2 separate regions of the Homo sapiens genome follow, and region 2 is linked to region 1. The links come from fine-mapping of genetic effects on gene expression. A gene starts in region 1. The other region holds a variant in brackets. All regions are shown on one strand. Distances are between the middles of the regions. Region 1 holds the start of NIPAL3 (NIPA like domain containing 3). Region 2 overlaps NIPAL3 (NIPA like domain containing 3).

What was found.
Region 2: its variant is fine-mapped to the expression of NIPAL3 in B cells (Fairfax 2012, PIP 0.90).

Annotation. Positions count from the first base shown.
Region 1 is chr1:24,411,651-24,419,650 of GRCh38, reverse strand. NIPAL3 (NIPA like domain containing 3) reads right to left here and starts at 3,849. Exons shown (of 12, transcript NM_020448.5): 1 at 3,747-3,849; 2 at 11-360. The coding sequence starts at 103. It overlaps STPG1 (sperm tail PG-rich repeat containing 1), which reads left to right and starts at 5,869. Exons shown (of 9, transcript NM_001199013.2): 1 at 5,869-5,977. RefSeq lists enhancers at 1-1,067, 6,254-6,373.
Region 2 is chr1:24,451,610-24,459,609 of GRCh38, reverse strand. NIPAL3 (NIPA like domain containing 3) reads right to left here. Exons shown (of 12, transcript NM_020448.5): 7 at 6,106-6,202; 8 at 3,337-3,472; 9 at 634-722. Among named protein-coding and RNA genes, the nearest start is that of NIPAL3, 40 kb to the right of the region's middle. RefSeq lists enhancers at 1,500-2,001, 3,285-3,797. The variant A/G (reference allele first, on the strand shown) is at 4,246.

The DNA of each region.
Region 1 (8,000 bases):
AAGCCCTTGCCTTGTAGGAGAAGGAGGCCTCGCTTACGGCGCTGGAGCTACTTGTGGGAGGCAGCTGCTGCAGCTTCAGGGCTGCGCTGTGGGATCCGTCCATGGTGGTCTAGTGGCGCATCCCACAGGGCCTGGCCTAGGAGGTGGAGCTGCTGCTAGGCGGGGCCCAGGCCAGATGCCATCTCTCCTTGTGGTGTTCACCTCCCTCCAGCAGCCGTCACTTCCTCATGACAAAAGAATACTTCAAGGCTGTTTTGGCAGATTTACAGCCTTCTCCTCAGCTTCACTCAGAGAAGTGCCAATTTCCGTGGCTCTCCCAGGCAGACAGAGAGGGGTGTGTTTTCCAGTTCTTGCGGTGCTCTAGGGTGGTGGAGAGGAACATTAAAAATGCATGGACAAGGAAACACTGAGCCCAGCTTTGTTATCTGAGAAGAGAATACCATTCAGATAAAACGTAACCGGCCATGACAAGTGAGTCCATTAAAAAAATTCTTCAAAATTCAATTCTAGCAGTTAAAAACAAGTCCTATCATGCCTTTGTCCTCCCCTTAATACAAACCTGACTCATCTATCTCAAAAGCTTTCTCCCTGGCCCTTAATGTTCCCTTTCCTCCTCCACTCTGCTTCCTTCCTCCCATCGCACCCTAACTTAAATCCTCCCTTTTTCCATAGCTCTTGAGCACAAGAAGTAGAATACTAACTTCTCCAGGTCTCAAAAAAAAAAAAAAAACAATTCCACTACCACGAAAAGGGAACTATTTAAGTTTCAGCTTAGGAAGAAAAGAATCAGAAGAAAAGCTACATCCATGGAAAACAGAAGAACTGGCCTGCTACCGAGGATTGGCCTGACACAGGTGAGGTGACACTGGTCTCGGAGGTGGAAAACCTGTGTGACCAGGTAACTCTGCCTCTCAGAGATTCAGTTGCCTCCTCTGTAAAGTGGGGGTAATAATGTGGCCTCAAATAAACCCAGCAATGATGAGAATCCCTACTAATTTCATCGGACTTATATTTTCAGTGCTTCCCGAACTTTTCCTTTTTTTGGAGACAGAATCTCACTCTGTCATCCAAGCTGGAGTGCAGTGGCACAAACATGGCCTCAAGCTGGGCTCAAGCAATCCTCCCTCAGCCTCCCAAGTAGCTGGGACCTCAGACGCGTGCCACAAGGCCTGGCTAATTTTTTTGTAGAGACAGGGTTTCGCCATGTTATCAGGCTGGTCTTGAACTCTTAGGCTCAAGCAGTCCACTTGCCTCAGCCTCCCAAAGTGCTAGGATTACAGGTGTGTGCCACTTCTCAAAATTTGCTACCAAACAGAGAAGAGAAAGTATACTTCTAGTGTCCTAGGAGGCATGGCCAAAACCCTGCTTAAAAGTGTTAGGGTTTTCTTTGAGGACTTTTTATACATTTTTTAGAAATGTATTCTACTGCATAGTCTATGTTTATTTTAATAGAAAAATGTTTTAAATTGCTTTTGATGTGCCATGTGCTACCTGTTTTACCTTTGCCAGGTCATTTAACTTTTCAGCCAGTTTCTCCAGCTGTGAAATATAGATAATAATGTTCCCACTCCACATGGCAGTCATGAGAATTTGATGAAATCATACATGTAAAATGCAGGCATAGCAAATGGTCCATGAATGTGAGCTGCTGTTAAGATTAATTTTATTCTCTCCTGTTTAATTATTTATTTTGTCCATTCCTTTCTCTCTCATGCATTCATCCAACAAATATTTACTGAGGGCTCACTGTGAGCTAAACAATTTCTGCCACTCCCTGAGGCTTCAGAGAGCTGCCTCCTGTGTATCCTGTAGCTTCCAGTTCCTTCTGCTATCCGGCCCTAGGCCCAGGAATTCTGGTTCATGGTGTGGACAGCACATACATATGTGATAAGGGGAACACCATGTCCAGTCCTGGGATACAACAAATGCAGGTTTAGCATAGGGACAGCTACAGAAACCATTTGGCTTGGTTTCACTTTGTCAGAGGGCCTCAGGATGAAATTATTGCTACTACCTGCAGACGAGGTTATATATCCAATATACAGACATGAGATGTAAGCATTCACCGGGTAACTTTATCAGGTAATTCACATCCCATAGCTAGACTTCCCTGCCTGTAAAACCCTATGAATATGTGTTTGCAATCTTGTGGAAAGCATAATTGTTCACTATACTTTCACGTACATGTGAAAAGCATTATTGTGTTACATTTCTGTAAAAATGTTTTAGCATTTGTAATAATCATAAGAGCCTTAAGAGTGGCTCAGGGTTCTTTCTACCTCTGAGAGGCCCCGGGAAGCATTCAACCATGAAGCAGTCATGGAGTTGAGGAGCGCAAACTCCAGTGAGGTGTTTGCGGAATACCCTGTTCAGTTGCTCCCAGCTGAGATCTAGCCCAGAGCCTGACAGTGACTTCTATACATACCAACCAACTGACTAAATGAGATCTAGCCCAGAGCCTGACAGTGACTTGTATACATACCAACCGACTGACTAAATGCAGGCTGGTTAAGCACTGGGTGCACTGTGGCCCCTTCGCAGTCAAGAATGCCTTTCTAAGGCCTAATCAACCACAACTCCAGAGCTTCAACAAGCAGATATACTCAGCCCCACCCACAGGAGGTCAGAGAAAGCCAACAGACCTTAGCGACATGTCAATCAAGGGAGTGGTGGGAACCCAGGCCTCCTAACATCCTTCAGAGTAGTTTGCCCAAGTGCTTTTCTGGTTTTGCTTTTGTTTGTGGTGGTTGGCATTGCTGTGGTTTAATTTTTCTTTTAAAAAGCAGCTTCCCTCTCTGCCTCAGGAACTCGCAGGCCTCTGAAGCATCGCCTGCAAAGATTGAAGGCTCTCCCTCAGCTGGGTGGGAGTCCGGACTGAAAGCCTGGAGGAACCCTTTGCAAGCTGTACTCCCTTATAAGACACATACTTTTCACCTGGTGACTCTCTTTTCCTGATTTCGAAGCATTTCTTCAGGACCTACATATGCCCGAGAGGCAAGCAGTCACCTCTGCGTTGTCAACCACCCCACAATTAGAGCACGTGGTCACTGACCCAAGGAAGGAATGAGAATTCACTAGGTGCTCTGCTTCCATTCCCACCCCGTTTATCTCGATGACGGATTTCACCAATCCCACAGAGCACGTTTTACAAATGAGACAGCCGTGGCTCATAGCGTCTGTATTCGAATTTGCCTCTTTCTGAACAAATCAATAAAACACGCTCTTTCCCACCACCCGACGATCTGGCTTCTGGAGGTGAGCGCCAGTTCCCTGCCAAGCTTCCCGTTCCTCGGCTTTGGCTCACGAGAAGGTTACATTCTTCCGTCCCGTCCCACTGAGCTGGAAACTTACAACTCGAGGAGACAGCACCTCTGTTCCAGAAGCGGGCTTAGACCAAGAACGCCTCCCCTCATCCCACCTGCTAACTCCACCATCTGCTGCCGCCAGGAAGCCCGAGCCGCTCGGCACGAAGAGGAGAAATTCTGGCAAAGTTAACTCCATGTCACTTCCTGGTTTGGTAGAGCCTGGCATCACCTTTAGTAAGGTAGCCCATGCCCCCGCTCCTCTTGGCCTCGATGCAAAACTGGAAAGAACATTCCAAGGCAACGGGACCCAGGTTGGCGAGGCTGGTGACAGTAAGAAGGAAGGGTATGTACACTAGGGGACGTTAGGTGACTTCGCTTTTTCCAGAAAAAAACGAAGGTTAAATTCAATTCCCCTTCCTCCCGGTGTTAATCACTACTCACCGGCGGCGTCTCCTCTAAGGCCCACCTATCAAAACCTTCTGAGAAATGACTCGGACTCTTCGTGCAACCCGGAGGCACAGCCTCCTTCATCCCTTCCCAATTCAGAGCTGCCAAGATGCTGCAGTGTTTTGCTTTCAAAGGTCGCGATTTGATTTGCCAGACTGCCTGCCAGTCAGAAGTTGGCAGGCATTTCGCGCAGGCAAGTGGCTGCGAGGACGGGGAGTAGGCGGGACAGCCCCTGGCAATTGGCTGCGCTGCAAAGCTTGCTTGAAGCATAAGGGAGCGACCTGGGGCTAGAGCTTGGCGCTCACCTGGAGCGGGGACCCCCTAGCGGCCACAGGAAGAATGGTGCGGCGACTCCCCTGCCCCCTCTCCCGCTGTCCCAGAGAGCTTAGGTGGTTGCTCGCCTCCACCTGCCCGGCAGGTGGGCCTGGTTTTAGCAGCCTGCCAGGTGTCCTCCCTTCTTATCCTCATAGCCACCTTCCGGGCTTTGCTCCTGCTGTTCCCCTACCCGACGCTCTCACCAAGTATTCAAATCCAAAACGTCCTTGAAGACCCAGCGCTCCCCAGAGCCCTCGCGAGACTTGGGACCAAACATATCTCTCCTTTCCTGCCCTCCTGGAACACCTGTCGGATACCAAGCCTCCCAGCAATACTGAAGGTCCTGAAACGAGCCCAGCGCTTGGTTAATGTTTCTATAATGTACATAATTATCACGGCCATGATAATTAACATGCGCATGGAGTTTTACAGATGACAAGCTTCTCATCGCTCACACGTTGTCATATACACGCATTTGCTTTCAGATCGTCACAGCCATGAGTGAGACTTGAAGCCCGTTTTACGTATGAAGAAATGTCATTTGGGCCTAGACATCAACAATGAGAAAGAGGCAGTTCTAGTCTCAGATCGTGGGGCAGAGAAAGCTCCTTGGGAACATGGGAGAGGAACGAGTTGGTGCATTGTAGAAACTGCCCGAAGGCCAGCAGGGCTGGTGAGAGATTTTTCTGGGGGCGTGGTTGGGCCTGCGATCTGAGGGACGGGCCAGGGACAGTTTATAAATAACATATTTGGGGGCCGGCGCGGTGGCTCACACCTGTAATCTCAGGACTTTGGGAGGCCAGGAGGATCACTTAAGCCCAGGAGTTTGAGACCAGCCTGGACAATATAGTGGGACCCCATCTCTACAAAAAAATTTAAAAATTAGCCGGGCGTGGTGGCGAGCGCCCGTGGTCCCAGCTACTCAGGAGGCTGAGGCGGGAGGATCGCTTGAACTCGGGAGGCGGAGGTTGCAGCGAGTCGAGATCGCGCCACTGCACTCCAGCTGGGCGACAGAGCAAGACCCTGTCAAAAAAAAAAAAAAAAAAAAAAAAGCTTGGATTTCACCCTAAATTTAAAGGCGAGCCATTGGAGGACTTTAAGCAGGGGAGTGACAAGGTCGCTGAGACCGCCCTGCCCTGAAGCGTGTGAAGAGGGGCTCCTGGAATACTAAGTGGCTGCCCTTGTATAGTCGCCCATGTCAATTTTTTTTTTTTTCTTCTGTTAGAAACAGGGCTTGGGGCCGGGCGTGGTGGCTCACGCCTGTAATCCCAACACTTTGGGAGGCCGAGGCGGGTGGATCACCTGAGGTCAGGAGTTCGAGACCAGCCTGGCCAACGTGGTGAAACCCTGTCTCTACTAAAAATACAAAAAGAATAGCCTGGCGTGGTGGCGAGCGCCGGTAATCCCAGCTACTCAGGAGGCTGAAGCAGGAGCATCGCTTGAACCTGGAGGGCGGAGGTTGCAGTGAGCCAAGATTGCGCCACTGCACTACAGCCTGCTCGACAAAGCGAGACTCTGTCTCAAAAAAAAAAGAAACAGGGCTTGGATGAATGTTAATTCTTTTAGGTATATTCCTTGAAGCAGGATTTTTGAGTGAGCAAAATTCTGAGGCTTTTGGTTTATCACAAGATTTTTGAAGCATGGCCTAGATAAACCTCTTATTAGTTCCCCACCCCGCTACAGGCCCTGATGTAATTAACCTAAGCCCTAAAATTCGGCCGGCTTCTCTGCGGACTTTGAAACGCCTCTAATGATTGGTCAACAACTTTTCACGTTAAAGAAACAGAGGATGCCATTGGCTGGAGTTACCTCGCGGACGGCGGAAGGTGGACTCGCGAATGTTAGGCCTGTGGGTGCCATAGCGACCGGGAGGTTGGGCTGGCCAGATTCAGCTGCCGGGACCGGACCAGGTAGGAAGCAGTTCCGGCGGGGGGACCGGTCCCTGAGGTCGTGGGGAAGAGGACACGGCGCACCATGTCCTCCGCATGGGACGCCCGCGGAGACCCCCCGGCCTCCGGGTGCTTGCGGAATTCCAGGGCTGAGCTAGGTGGAGCCCCGAGGGCGGGAAGAAGCCACCATGGGAGTTGCCCCTGCGTCGGGGCGTGTCCTCGGTGTTTCCACCCGAAAAGTGGTGACAACTGGGGCTTGCCTGCTCCACCGAGCTCCTGCCAGGGGCGTGGGCGTCCGACCCTTCTGGCTCAGGCTCCGCGAGTGCGCAAAAGTTGGGAGGCTTCAGTGCCTGGCAGTGGGTGGACGCCAAAGACCTGATCTCTACTCATAGGTTCACCCCAGCTCAGGGGGTGTCCCCCAGCAAACGACTTCCCTGCTCTGGGCCTCGATTTACCCATCTGTAAAATAAAAGGGTGAGATTGGAACCTGGTGGTCACTAGCCCGCCGCTAAATTTCCTTCCAGCTCCCTGATACACTTTCTCAGCCTATGAAGACTATCGAATGGGTTATTTACCTGAGAGTGCTTTGAAAAAATGTAAGCTGCTTCCAAGATGCTTATAACTGAGTAGATAAAAATCGCCTACAGACGAAACTACTCAGGACATCCAAAAAAATTCTATCTAAAGTAACAGTATACATAGTTTAGTACATGTTTATATACCCTGTACAGTAACATGTATAATGTAAACTGTAATACTTAGCATATATAACGTTTTTTAAAAACACAAGAGATGATAAAATGAAACTGTGCCTATAGTTGTGATCATGTGAGCTGTCCTTGTAGAATCTAACTCCCGCTGGAAATATATTCTGAGCACAGCTGTACACACAATTGCTAAAAGGTGTCTACCTCTAGTATTCATTCATTCATTCATTCCACCAATATTTATGAAGAAAATACTAATTTTAAAAATTCTCAATACTATTATTATTATTTTTGTAGAGACAGGGCCTTGCTATGTTGCCCAGGGTAGTCTTGAACTTCTGTCTCAAGCCATCCTTCCCCCTCAGCCTCTCAAAGTGCTGGGATTACGGGTGTGGGCCACCATGCCTGGCCAATTGAGCAAATACTGTATGTGAGGAAATAGACTGAAGATTCAGAGTTGAACTTTCTACTGGGGAAGATCATAAACAAATAAAGTAATAAACATACAATATAATGTTGGGTAGTGAAAAGTGCTTTGAAAAAGATAAAGCAGAGTAAGGGGCTAGAGAGAGATGGGTTGGTGCTTCTTAAGAGAGGGTGGTCAGGGAAGTCATCCCTAAGAAGGTTTGAGCAGAGAGTCTCGTGAATTTTGTGACAGGACTGCAGGACGATGCCTGGGTCCGGTGAGGAAAGGAGCTCCCCATGCAGCAAGGAGATATGTGGCAAAAGCCAGGGAGGTCCCATGTGGAGAAGAAGATTAGTCTTTAGGTGGTGGGGCACGACAACTGCCTTCAAATTCTTGCAGAATAGTCATATAGAACAGTGGCTTTCAAACCTTTTGACTGTGACTCATGGTAAATGCATTTTATATTGTGACCCAGCATGCACACACGCATATGACAAACTAAAACTTCACAAAAGACTACAGACTATGACTTGCATTTTGAAAATCACCAATGTGGAAGAGAAATGAGACTTACTTTGAGTTGGTTCCAAGGGTGGGAATTAGGACGGATAGAAAAAGAAAAAAAGAGAGAGAGAATCAGCTTTGATACAGGAAGGAACTTTCTAGCAATTAGAACTGTCCAACAGTGAACTTCCCCCAGGAGTTTTTAAACTGTGTTCTGATGAAACCTAGCATTCTGTGAATATTCAAGAGAGTCAAATATTTGCCCCCACCCAGCCATCCCTTATTTGCTTTATATTTTGAAAACTATATGCAATATTGTAACTTCAGAAACCCAACCAGGTAAGGCACGGTGGCTCACTGTAATCCCAGTGCTTTGGGAAGCTGAGGTGAGAAGATCACTTGAGGCTAGGATTTCGAGACCATCCTG
Region 2 (8,000 bases), 40 kb before region 1:
GCCAGGCTTTCACCAAAGGAAAGCACTTAGTTCTTATTGGATTTTTTACTCTGAAGATTTTAGTCACCTATTATGCCATTTAAACAAATTAACAAACAGCTTTATATGATTGCAGCCTCTGAGGCCACTACAGAAAGAAAATGCAAAAAAAAATTAGAGGTGAAATAGAGGAAAAGGGGGCTGTAATGCTAATGATCACTTATTGAGCATTGATGATGTTGCAGTGCTATGCATATTCATAATCTCTAAAATTATACAGAAGAGATTTGTGGTCACTTAGCCAGTGGGGGTTGTGGAGCTAGAAGATAGCAAAACTTGTTAAAGTACACACAGTATGGCATAGGGCACATTTGGATCATACCCATTACAATTCTAGGAGCTAAGTGTTATCACTCCCATTTTATGAATGTGGAGCTGAGGCTCAGAGAGGTTAAGTGATGTTTGCAGAGCTGATGTGCGTCTGTGCTGGGATACAAACCCGGGTCTCTCTGTCTGGAAATCCTGCACATTCTCCATGAACCCATAAATCACTCTACGGGGAGAACAAGTCAGCAGAATCAGCCTCCCTCTGCCCTGGGATAATACCCTGCTGCTAAAGTAGAAGACAGAAATCTAGCAATGGGTCACCCTTACCTGCTGTGATAGCAATGGTTGTGGACAGAATGTAGCCCACACTGGCAATCAAAGAGGAGTCGTACATCTGTGAGGCTTGACTCAAAAACCTTCAACACAAAAGCACTCCAGTCAGTGGGCTGTGGAGACGTTGGAAAGGCTAAGAGCTGACAACAGTAGAGTTTGGTTTGAAATATGAAGATGATACATTTAGGAATGTTCCTTGGGTTTCTAAAAATGCCACCCTCATGTTACAGGACATTGTGTATCCCTAGTCTGGGGCCCATACTTGATTCCCACTCTTCCCCTAGACACACAGCTAAGGCCCATCCCCATTTCCCAATTGAACCATGCCATCATGGTCTCACACCTTTGGCTGCACGGCTCCTGTCACCTGAAATGCCCTTCTCCTCACCCCCCGTATCCCCACCCCACTAAAAAGAGCCATTCCTGCATCTCTTATACCCCTGCCCCCAGAAACTCTTACAGCACTAATCACGTTCTGCCTAGTGTCATAATTATTCTTTTAAACAAAATTTCTTTTTAATTTGAAAATAATGTGATCACTGAAATAAATACAGGAAAAAGAGAAAATTAGAGTCCTTCCTAATCACTCCATCTATGATAAACAATACCCTTGTTTTGGAAGATATTCTTTGCCCTTTCTCTGCATAGTTGCTTACACCATGCTCACCACTCAATTGCTTTTATTTTTTTACTTCGCTTTGTGGCCTAGGCTGGAGTGCAGTGGCAAAATGACAGCTCACCACAGCCTCTAACTACGGGGCTCAAATGCTCCTGCCTCAGCCTCCTGAGTAGCTGGGATTACAGGTGTGAGCCACTGCATGCAGCTTGGCTGTACTAGTTTCTTCACTGGCTGTCCCCCAGCCAGGGCCGTGAATGCCTGAGGGCAGTGAGTGACTACCCTCATCATCTCTGTGTGCTGAGCACCCTCAGTGGGCTGCACTGGCTAGGGAATGAGTAGCTCCTTAGGAGGTGGGCGGTGGCATCTGAGCCATGTTTGTGACACCTGGAGTGCTCAGCACAGGGCCTTTGACTGGCAGGGGCTTCCAGGTGATGACTGGAATTGTTGTAGTGGGACCAAAAATAATAACCAAAATAACAATAGCAAGGCCAATAATCATAGAAGCAGCTCATGTTTACCGGGCATTTCCCTAGAGACATTCTCATAAGAGCTTCATGTGATTCTCTTAGGTAGGGACTGTTGTTCTCATTAGCAGGTGAAGAATCTGTCTTGGAGAAGCTGAGTAGGCGACAGAAGAGCAGAGCAGTGAGGGCATGGGCTGGGGAGCCAGACACCTGGGTTCAGATCTCAGCTCCGCCACTTTCTAGCCTCTTACTCTCTCCGCATCAGTTCCTCGTATGCAAAATGGGGATAATATCCTGTACATCAAAGGAGTGTTGTAAGGACCAAATGAGCTGGTTCCATAAAGCACTGAGAAAAGAGCTGGGCTCACACCGGGCCAGCAGCAGCTGCTCCTATGGTGCCTGGAGGCCATGTAGCTGGTGGACCTTCAGTCTGAGCCTGAGCTTCCCAGGTTGAATCAGCCTTGTGCGCTGCTGAGTCCTGTGTACCTACACAGGTTTTGTCACCTACAAGATTCCTAGAGCCTCTCCTCCCAGGCCCTCTGTTGGGCTCCAGGACTCAAACGCAAACAAGACACAGGCCCTGCCCTCAGGCTGCTGCCTTTTATTTAACTTCATGCTTAGAAAGAGGAGGGGGCACTTTGCCTTCCACTCAGGAAGATTTGGAGGTGATATACTGAAGTCAAGAAATGACAACTTTTCTTTCCAACCCAGCAGACAAGCAGGTGCCTCCTAGGGATGGCCATGCTTCCGAGGCCCCTGAGACGATCATCTGCCCCGGAGAAGATGGGAAGTAAGGCTGCCTCCAACCACAAATTTCTCACATTCTGGCCAGGTGTTGTGGCTCATGCCTGTAATCCCAGTACTTTGGAGGCCAAGGTGGGTGGATCACTTGAGGTTAGGAGTTTGAGACCAGCCTGGCCCACAAAGTGAAATCTCGTCTCTACTAAAAATACAAAAATTAGCCGGGTGTGGTGGCATACACCTGTAGTCCCAGCTACTTGGGAGGCTGAGGCAGGAGAATCGCTTGAACCCCAGAGGCAGAGGTTACAGTGAGCCGAGATGGCTCTACTGCACTCCAGCCTAGGCAACAGAGTGAGACTCTATCTCAAAAAACAAACAAACAAGCAAACAAACAAAAATTATCACATTCTGAGGGAGTGGGGAAAAATCCATCCACTGCTGGCTTCGTATTTCTTTCTTTTTTCTTTTTTAATTCTGTGTCTCAGCTTCCTGAGTAGCTGGGACTACAGGCATGTGCCACCATGCCCAGCTAATTTTATTTTATTTTTTTGTATTTTTAGTAAAGACGGGGTTTCACCATGTTGGCCAGGCTAGTCTCAAACCCCTGGCCTCAAGTGACCCACCCACCTCAGCCTCCCAAAGAGCTGGGATTACAGGCGTGGGTCACTGAGCCTGGCCTGGCTTCGTCTTTTGAGTGGCAGGTGTCCCTCCAGGTGACAACTCAGCAAATTAGCAGCTCCTCTCTCCATGCTGGATGCCAGGCCCTGGGGCATGTTCTGGCCTCCTTGTGGCTTCACAGCATACGTCATCAGGCCCCCAAAAGAGAAGCAGCCCGAATGGCAGGGCCCAGCAGGAAAAGGATTTGTAACTCACGCAGCCTGATAGACGGCGGTTGCCACCATGCACACGAACATCACGTAGAAGATGGGGTAGTCAAGCTGCAGGTTCCCTTGAATGGACAAGACAAGCATCCCAGCCACGGCCTTGACTGTCACCACTGTCATGGAGCCTGCAGATGGGAGACAAGGGCGAATGGGGAGCCTCAGGGAAATGCAGAGAGTTAGGTCCGGAAAGCCAGTCTATAACCCCAAAGGACTTGGGGAGACAGAGGGGAGGGAACAGGAACAGAGTCAAGCCGGCAGTTTGCACAGTGACAGACGCCGTTTGCACTGGGTCTCGTGTGCACCTCTCCCATGGACTCCCATGCTCTGTGCTGACTACATCCTAAAGGAGGGAGGAAAGCCAACCCCCTGAAGGTAATCCTAGACATCACTTCTAAACTGCCAAGCATGGGCAGTAAGTTCAGTTCTCTGAGGCCCGGAGTGCCCAGCACTGTGGCCAAAAGGATCCGAGTGGATCAACGAACTTACCAGTCTCATGGCAACCACAGGAAAAACATGTGTTGGGTAAACAGCTTAGGAATTGTTGGGTTTTTTAGTGCTCAGTCACTTGTATTTTTTGTTGTTGTTGTATTTTTTTTTTTCCTTTTTGTGGACAACAGGGTCTCGCTATATTGCCCAGGCAGGTCTTGAATTCTTGGGCTCAAGCTACCCTCCCATCTCTGCCTCCCTAATAGCTGGGATTACAGGCGTGAGCCTCCGCGCCCAGCTGGTCACTTGTATTTTTAAAAACATTTCTCCAGTGTTTTGGAATGCACACCCCTGTGCATATGTGCAAACATTTCCAATATGTGTGTATCTGTTTTCAAATTAAAGTCATGTGACCCTGAACTTAAATGGTAGGCATGTTATAAAATTTGTACAGGAATATAATTTAAAAGGC[A/G]GAGAAAAAATGATTGAAGTTCTAATATTCTCTCTGTGTACCCAGCGAAGCATCCTGCTCACCTCCCTGTGGAGACCCTTGCTCCACCCTACTGTTCAGAAATGTCTTCTAACTGCAGACTTTCAGACTGCCCTGCCAAACAGGAGTTAGAGACAGCCCCCAAGCGTGGTCCAGGTGAAGCCCCCGGTCCCTGCTGCTGTGCTTTGCTTTCCTATTCTTCAGCTTTGGTTTATTTCGCTTTCTCCTGCCAACACCCCCAACACGCAGTGTCTCTTGGGCTCCTCACCCATTAGGCTACTGTTTCCAAACGTCAGCAACCACTTAGGCACTTGTCATCAGGTAGTCCTTCTTAGTCAGAAGGGGATTGGCCAATGGCCTCAGAACCTTCTGGCCTTCCTACGTAAGAGGAGAGGATGTTTCAGGGCCGTGATCCTTCCCATCCACTTTGAAAACAAAGTCACCGAGGAATGAAGGACTGATTCATGCTATGATGTGGGTGAACCTCAGAATCATCATGCTCAGTGAAAGAAGCCAGTCATATCAGGCCACAAAGCATACGACTTTATTTATGAAGGTGTTCAAAAAGGCAAATCTACAGGGACAGAAGATAGCTTAGTGGTTGCCTGAGGCTGGGAAAAGGGGAACAGGGAGTGACTGCTAATGGGCACAGGGTTTCTTTTGGGGGTGACAAAATGTTCTAAAATTAGATTAGGATGATGGTTTCACAACTCTATGAAATACTAAAAACCACTGAATTGTATACTTTAAACAGGTGAACTTTATGGTATGTAAATTATATCTCAACAGAGCTGTTAAAAAATTAAGGAAACCCTGTCTTCGGTGACAGGTATCTATTTGGTTGATGGCTTGTGGCGGTGGTAGGGCACACAGTAGGAAGGTTGGAAGAAAAATGCACATATTAGCCACCTGTGCACATCTCATTTAACCCCCACTCCCTTCCGTGACTTGGATGTTCTCATAGGCCCCCCCTTTAGAGAAGTGGACAGCGTGGCTTAAGGAGGGAGGGTCATTAGCCTGAGGCCACTCAAGAGCAGCGCGGTAGCAGGCTTCACCAGCCCTGACACCAGCCTGCTCCTCCGCCTCTGTCTGCTTCTCCTCAGGAAGGATGGATTCCCCACAGCTCTATTTAGCTATAAAATTATATGCAGTTCTAGCCAGGTACAGGGCCTCATGCCTGTAATCCTGGCACTTTGGGAGGCCGAGGCAGGGGGATCACTTGAGGCCAGGAGGTCAAGGCTGCAGAGAGCTAAGATTGTACCACTGCACTCCAGCCTGGGTGACAGAGCAAGACTGTCTCAAAAAAAAAAAAAAAGGAAAAATTAATATGCAGTTCTAGCCTCAAGCTGATTCAGGAGCTATCTCTTCCACAGCACCCATCCCTCTAAAAGGAAAAGAAAAAATAGATGACAAAATCTAGTTTTACCTTTGAATCAGAATGAATCCCTAAGCTCTGATAGGTTTTGCATGGATCTTTTCAGGGCTCAATCGCTGGGGCATGCTCTACTACTACCGTCTCTGAAACAAACTAACTCACCTCATCCTCACTCTACTTTATTCTTCCTCATTGGAATTGTTATTGCCCAAACTTACATGACCTATGAATTTGGCTAGTTGTTTAGTGCTATTTTCTCCCTTTAGATTGGAGGCTCCTGGAGCACAGGAGTTTGCCTCCGGTCAGCAGGGACCCAGCTCCCCAGAGCCACTGATGGAGACAGAACAACCTCAGCCAGTCTCAAGCAACTTCTGTGCCCAGCGGCTACAGCTCTGCAAACAAAACCCACATTTCCATTTGGTGCTTCTTGGTGGTGGCAAAACTCAATCATCCAGATGCCAACTTACCAAGTAACGCCACCAAGAGAAGAATCACGACAATGTTGTTGGCGTTCTTCTCCTTGTAGAAGTAGAGCAGCAAGCAGAACAGAATGATCTCCACCAGCTGTGGAAGGCAGCAAGCAGGGGGGTCAGTGGGGACCACAGAAGTAGGCGAGACCGGGAGACCCTGGTGGGCTGGGCCATCACCAGAGTCACAGGGTTGAAAGGGAATGACTGAGCTATGATTCAGCATTTCCCAAACTACTGTTAGACGTTCAGGGGAAAAGGGAAACACAGAGTGAATCTCTCTAATCCCTGGCTAGTACTGAGAAGGAATTCCCTGTTGTCCTGAGGCTGAAGCTTTGAGGGTGACGTGCTGCTCTCATATCCACTCTTTCTTGGAGGGCCAAGATGCATCAGGCTGAGATGGTTTCTTCCCACTCCACTGCTCCATGGGCATCCCCATTAAAACAATGGGTTGGTCCAAGAGGGAGACACTTGTTCACCAACCTATTTGGTCAAGAATGTGAGGCCAGGCACGGTGGCTCACACCTGTAACCCTAGCACTTTGGGAGGCCAAGGCGGGTGGATCACCTGAAGTCAGGAGTTCGAGACCAGCCTGGCCAACATGGTGAAACCCGGTCTCTACTAAAAATACAAAAAAAAAAAAAAAAAAAATTAGCTGGGCGTGGTGGCATCTGCCTATAATCCCAGCTACTCAGGAGGCTGAGGCAGGAGAATTGCTGAGATCACGCCACTGCACTCCATCCTGGGAGACAGAGCGAGGCTCCATCTCAAAAAAATAAATAAATACATAAATAAAGAATATGAGTATATACTCCCTGTGCTCCCAGCCAAGCTTCCAGTGTGAAGCTTCACAGAGTAGAATGAGGAAGGCCTTTGGAGTCAGGGAGACCTGGGCTGGAACTTAGGTCTGCCTCTAAACTAGTCGTGTGGCCTTGGGTAAGTCACTTAACTTCTCTAAACCTTAGTTAACCCTCTGTGGAGTAGGGTTAAGAATTCTTTTTATGGGCCCATAATCATAGCTTACACTAAATGACGTCTCCTTGTACGCCAGGCAGTGTTCTAAGCATTTTATCTACGTTAAACTCACTAAATCAGCACAATAACTCTACGAAGCAGGTACTACCACGATGGCGTGGCACAGAGGAATTTAAACCTGGACAGTCTGGCTCCCAGGCCCATGCACTTTCCTGCTAGGCCACACTGTCTGGTGCTCTATCAGTAGAAACTTACCACTAGACGATGGCAAGTCCGAGTTTGAGAAGCTCCCCCTCCTTGCATCAACAACTGTTCCTTTCTACCCCTTAAAAGCCCAGATATTTGCTAACACTTTCCCAAGAAGTTAAGCCAGCCCTAGCGCCCAGTGCAACTAAAGCAGAAAACTTTGACAACAGCTTAGTCTCATTTGCCTATCCCAAACCCCTTATCAAAGCTGATTTAGTATAAAAAAAACCCAGAAACATTAATGGGCATTTTGAAACATTTAAAACATTCCTTCTAATTAGAGACCATAAAACACAGCTGCTTTCATTTCCCCGTTTCTTCTTTGTCTTTGTTCCAGTGAATCCATATTTTAACGAGTTGTCATTATAGTCAATGCACGATTTTGTACTGGGCTGTTTTTAGTTACCATAAACAATCTTCATGTTTTGTGAAGTTGTCATAATTATCTTTAATTGCTGCAGAATACTTCATCAAGTGGATGTGCTGTCAATCATCAACATTCCCAACCACTGTGCCTGCATTTGAGGGGTCCCAATTCTTCAGCCATTCTCCATGATTTTTTTTTTCTTTTTCTTTTTTTGAGACAGGGTCTCACTGTGTCACTCAGGCTGGAGTGCAGTACTGTGATCATGGCTTACTGCAGCTTTGACCTCCAGGGCTCAAAGCTATCCTCC